Linked DNA regions of Homo sapiens: region 1 is linked to region 2. Evidence: fine-mapped expression QTL. A gene starts in region 2. The other region holds a variant in brackets. All regions are shown on one strand. Distances are between the middles of the regions.

Region 1 (2,913 bases), 94 kb before region 2:
TTCAATTGTCTGGGTGACTTTTCACCTGTTGCCTAGGGAATTGTTTTGTGTTTTGTAGATTAATAGATGGGCAGCTCTTTGGGGTCACTCCATCTTCTCCATGCTTCAGAACTCTACACCTTCCTCTAGTCCTTCATGAGGACTAAGGGACTAACTTTGAATTCAGGAACAGCAGGAGTATGTCTCACTTCTTTTCTTTTTTTTTTTTTTTTTGAGACAAAGTCTCACTCTGTCGCCCAGGCTGGAGTGCAATGTCATGATCTCGGTTCACTCCAACCTCCGTCTCTCGGGTTCAAGCGACTCTCCTGCCTCAGCCTTCTGAGTAGCTGGGATTACAGGCACCCACCACCATGCCCAGCCAATTTTTGTATTTTTAGTAGAGACAGGGTTTCACCATGTTGGTCAGGCTGGTCTTGAACTCCTGACCTCAAGCAATCCACCTGTTTTGGTCTCCCAAAGTGCTGGGATTATAGGAGTGAGCCACCATGCCTGGCTATCTTACTTCTTTTCTTATAAACAGGTCTCTCTATCCCAAAGCCTGATGTGATTTCCTTACTGGAGCAAGGGAAAGAGCCCTGGATGGTTTCAAGGGACGTGCTGGGAGGATGGTGCCGAGGTGAGTAAGGACTGAGCACATGGGGAAGACACTGCTGTTTAGAAGCCAGCCTGTCAGGGAGGCAGCACCGTACAGGTATTGGTTGAGGAGTCTCTTCTTCAAGGTCCCATGTAAGGGTGGTGGCCTAAGACACATGAAGAGAAGTCACGATACACCCCCACACACACTTTTTAAAATTTTATTATTTATTTATTTATTTATTTTGAGATGGAGTCTCGCTCTGTCGCCCAGGCTGGAGTGCAGTGGCATGATCTCGGCTCATTGCAACCTCCGTCCCCAGGTTGAAGCGACTCTCCTGCCTCAGCCTTTGAAGGAACTGGCATTATAGGCATCCACCACCATGCCCAGCTAATTTTTGTATTTTCAGTAGAGACGGGGTTTTACCATGTGGGCTAGGCTGGCCTCGAACTCCTGACCTCAAGTGATCCACCTGCCTCGGCCTCTGAAAGTGCTGGGATTACAGGTGTGAGCCACTGCGCCTGGCCAAGAATCCCCTTTTACTTCCACCTCTTCAGTCTGTGCTACCCTCTTGTCATAATTTCTTCCCATTTCAAAGAATAAAGTTCCCTTCTTCGGGAGCCATCCTGTTTCCTCTGTCTTCAAGCTACTTCTTTCCCTTTGAAATTTAAACCTGTGTTCTTGCTTTAAAAA[A/T]TTTTTTTTTCAAAATATATTTATTTTTCATACTGATCCTTAACTTTTTTTGTGTGTTGTCTTGTCTAGTTTTCCTTTGATGCAGACATTTCATGCATCAATGGATATTCATTCACTTTATTTTTTTGAAACAGAGTCTTACTCTGTCACCCAGGCTGGAGTGCAGTGGTGCAATATTGGCTCACTGCAACCTCCACTTCCCGGGTTCAAGTAATTCTCCTGCCTCAGCCTCTTGAGTAGCTGGGACTACAGGCATGTACCACCACAACTGGCTACTTTTTGTATTTTCAGTAGAGACAGGGTTTCACCATGTTGGCCAGGCTGGTCCTGAACTCCTGACCTCAGGTGATCCACCTGCCTCGGTCTCCCAAAGTGCCAGGATTACAGGTGTGAGCCACCACGTCTGACCTCATTCACTTTTAGTCAAAATTTATTGACTTAAAAAAAAAATCATAAAGCCTTCTTTTCTTGGTGGGTGACAGTTATGGAAGATATAAGCTATCAGAATTACAGTCTAATAAAGGGTTTATTTATTTATTTATTTTGAGACAATATCTCTTTGTGTTGCCCAGGCTGGAGTGCAGTGGAGTGATCTCGGCTCACTGCATCCCCTGCATCCTGAATTCAAGCAATTCTCGTGCCACAGCCTCCGGAGTAGCTAAGATTACAGGCACGCGCCACCACACCTGGCTAATTTTTTGTATTTTTAGTAGAGACAGGGTTTTGCCACATAGCCTAGGCTGGTCTTGAACTCCTGAGCTGAGGCAATCTGCCCACCTCGGCCTCCCAAAGTGCTAGGATTACCGGCGTGAGCCACCACACCCAGCCTAATAAAGGGTCTAAATCATTGTATAAATCACTTTCTAAAAAGTAGACTCAACCAGGAGATTTCTAATATGGTGCTTAGAAGAAAGAACTGTAGATATAAATGTGAAGGAATAGGATATGCCTGCTTTTAGGAGGAAAAGGTACACTGAAATGATTGTGTATAAAAGAGGACAATAAGTTAAATATAGAAGACTTAAGTGTCAAGGAAAAGGAGTGATCCATTTTCAATAAGTTGGTGACAATGTTAACATGGACAAAAATTGGGCTGTAAGTAGCATAGACTGAGGGATTTTTCTTTTGAAGTAGAAAAGATAAGGCATTTTGTTTTTCAAAATGTGCTTTTAAGTAATGCAAACTATCCATTTTAAAAAGCGTTTTAATTGTAGGATATAGATGACTATTTCCCTTTATCCATAGAACATTACAAAAAAATTTTTTTTTAATTATTAACTTGATTACGGAGGTCTTTGAACATACACAAAAGTAGAAAGGATGGTGTAATGGACATCCCCCAAATCCATTTCCTAGCTGCAGTAGTTATCAATGAGTTTCCATGTTTCCAATCTTACTTGATCTATGCCTGTTGACCTCTGCACCTTCCCTTAACTAAAGCAAGTCCTGGATATCATGAGTTCAATAATATTAAATGTATAGGTAGCTTTTCAGTGTTGCTTCTTCTTTTTTTGTTTTTGTGACAGGGTCTCTCTGTTGCCCATGCTGGAGTACGGTGGCACAATCACAGCTCACTGCAGCCTTGACCTCCAGGACTCAAGTGATCCTCCCACCTCTGCCTCCTGAGTAGCTCAGACTACAAGCAC
Region 2 (2,913 bases):
CTCACACAGAATGTCACAAGATCCCTGTGCACGTGGCTGCGCTCCTGCAAACGTGGCAATCACACGGGTCCAGGTGGCCTCTCACATTTAAGCCACATCACGTATCACCCCCACAGGGGCCACTGCGGGAGTGGCGGCGCTCGCCGCATGAGCCCCACGCGGGCATATAGAACAGCCATTCTCAAAAAGCCTCAAAACCGTTTCACCACCCAGCGCGGTGGCTCACACCTGTCATCCAATACTTTGGCCACTGAGACGGGAGGATCGCTTGAGCCCAGGAGTTCGAGACCACCAGCCTGGGCAACATAGCGAGACCCTGTCTTTACCAAAAAAATAAAAATAAAATAAATCGTTTTGGCCTGACCCGGTGGCTCACGCCTGCTATCCCAGCACTTTGGGAGGTGGATGCGGGAGGAGCTGAGGAGGTGGAGACTGCAGTGAGCTAGGATCGCGCCACCGCAGTCAGCCTGGGCAACAGGGCATGAAGACCCTGTCTCAAAAAGAGGCCGGGCGCGGTGGCTCACGCCTGTAATCCAGCACTTTGGGAGGCCGAGGCGGGCGAATCACGAGGTCAGGAGATCGAGACCATCCTGGCTAACACGATGAAACCCCGTCTCTACTAAAAATACAAAAAATTAGCCGGGCGAGGTGGCGGGCGCCTGTAGTCCCAGCTACTCGGGAGGCTGAGGCAGGAGAATGGCGTGAACCCGGGAGGCGGAGCTTGCAGTGAGCCGAGATTGCGCCACTGCACTCCAGCCTGGGCGACAGCGAGACTCCGTCTCAAAAAAAAAAAAAGAAAAAAAAAAAGTTGAGTGAAATATATGACGTACAGTTTTTTGTTGTTGTTGTTGTTTGTTTTTTCTTGCCCGGGCAACAGGGCAAGAAGACTCTGTCTCTAAATAAATAAATAAATGGAGTCAAATATATGACATACAGTTTTGTTTGTTTGTTTGAGAAGGAGTTGCTCTGTCGCCCAGGCTGGAGTGCAATGGCGCGACCTCGGCTCACCGCAACCTCTGCCTCCCGGGTTCAAGCGATTCTCCTGCCTCAGCCTCCCGAGTAGCTGGGATTACAGGCATGCGCCATCACGCCCGGCTAATTTTGTATTTTTAGTAGAGACGGGGTTTCTCCATGTTGGTCAGGCTGGTCTCGGTGATCCGCCCGCCTTGGCGTGAGCCACCGCGCCCGGCCAAAAAAAAAATTTTTTTTTAAATCGTTTCACATACAAATCTCACGCGCTACACCCTCACCGTCAGTTCATATCCACCTTCTCCTCCGGAGTCACCTTCGGACACGCGCACAACAAAACACCTTTCTCACCACAACTCCACAAAGGGAAGCCGGGTTAGTCCGCGCCCGCCGAAAATTATCTTCAGCCACAGCCCGCGGAGGCCGCCTTGAGGGGTTCGGGGCAGCCACTGTGCCTATTCCGAAATCCGTCCTCAGCGGAACCCGAAGTCCAGAATCCGAAAACGAACATTAACAGGTTGGCGTCACTCCAGCCTCGGGTGAAACTGCGCAAGTGCATCCCGGAGCCCGGCGGAACACACCCGCTCCACCCCAGGCGCTCTCCCCTCGGACTGCATTTCCCAGAGGACACTGCTGTCCACAGCTACTTCCGGTAGGAGCCTCGCAGGAATGGTCTCCGGGTAGAGGCAGGTAAGGATGTCCCGGGCCGGTGGAGAAGGAAGAGCTGGGCGTGTGGCTTCGCTTGGAATCCGAATCAGAGCTTGGACCAGAGCCTTCCCTGAGAATGCTGAAGGTAAGAAATCCTGGCTCACCAGTGCCGCGGAAGGGAATGTCTATAGTTTTAGGCCTCTGAGTGCGGGATCAGCCCTTAGGTGGGTGTGTTTTGAATGCGTGAGGAAGTAGGGTTTCTCTTTGGGCTGTGTGTTACTGTTGGGACAGCGACCTGGTGCGTGGGTGTGCTTTAGTGACAGTGTGATTGTGTGCCTGATCATTTGTGTAAATGGGGTTTGTAGGTGACTGTGACCATGATTGTGAATGGCTATTTGTGTAAATCTCATTTATTTACGTGAAAGAAAAAGCACATTTACAGGCCGGGAGCGGTGGCTCACCCCTGTAATCCCAGCATTTTGGGAGCCCGAAGCGGGTGGATGCCCTGATGTCGGGAGTTCGATACCAGCCTGGCCAACGTGGAGAAACCCCACCTCTACTAAAAATACAAAATTAGCCGGGTATGGTGGTGCATGTCTGTAATTCCAGCTCCTTGGGAGGCTGAGGCAGGAGAATCGCTTGAACCCGGGAGGCGGAGGTTGCTGTGAGCCGAGATCGCGCCATTGCACTCCAACCTGGGCAACAAGAGTGAAACGAAACTGTCTCAAAAAAAAAAAAACAAAAAAACATTCACGTTATCCTCAGGCTCACACGATCAGGCAGAGAGCTTCCACTCCTCTCAGTCAACTCTGGTCTCTCACACACAGACACACGCACATTCACCTCACCCCGCTCCTGTGCACACATCTAAGGCTCAGGACGCCCCACTCCAGAGATCTGTCATTCATCCATCTCTCATCCTTTCCTGACTACTTGAGGAGTTAGCTGTAGATTTACACACACAACACAAGCGAAAATCACATTGCTACCCCGCATTTATCATTACAGCCTCAGAAAAACACCACATATGTAGTATGCTTATGTACCTATGTGTTTGATTTTTTTTTTCTGAGATTTGGCCACAATACACATTGTTCTGCAACTTCCTTTTTTTTTTTTTTTTTTTGAGACGAAGTTTCTCTCTTTCACCGTGGCTGGAGTGCGGTGGCGCGATCTCGGCTCACTGCAACCTCCGCCTTCGGGTTTTAAGCAGTTCTCCTGCCTCAGCCTCACGAGTAGCTGGGATTACAGGCATCCGCCACCACACCCAGCTAATTTTTGTATTTTTAGTAGAGA

The links.
Region 1: its variant is fine-mapped to the expression of ZNF461 in whole blood (TOPMed, PIP above 0.99).

What each region holds. Positions count from the first base shown.
Region 1 is chr19:36,759,346-36,762,258 of GRCh38, reverse strand. It overlaps ZNF850 (zinc finger protein 850), which reads left to right. Exons shown (of 5, transcript NM_001193552.2): 4 at 521-616. Among named protein-coding and RNA genes, the nearest start is that of ZNF850, 12 kb to the left of the region's middle. The variant A/T (reference allele first, on the strand shown) is at 1,268.
Region 2 is chr19:36,665,539-36,668,451 of GRCh38, reverse strand. ZNF461 (zinc finger protein 461) reads left to right here and starts at 1,615. Exons shown (of 6, transcript NM_153257.5): 1 at 1,615-1,762. It also overlaps a transcript of ZNF567 not described here. RefSeq lists an enhancer at 1,309-1,438.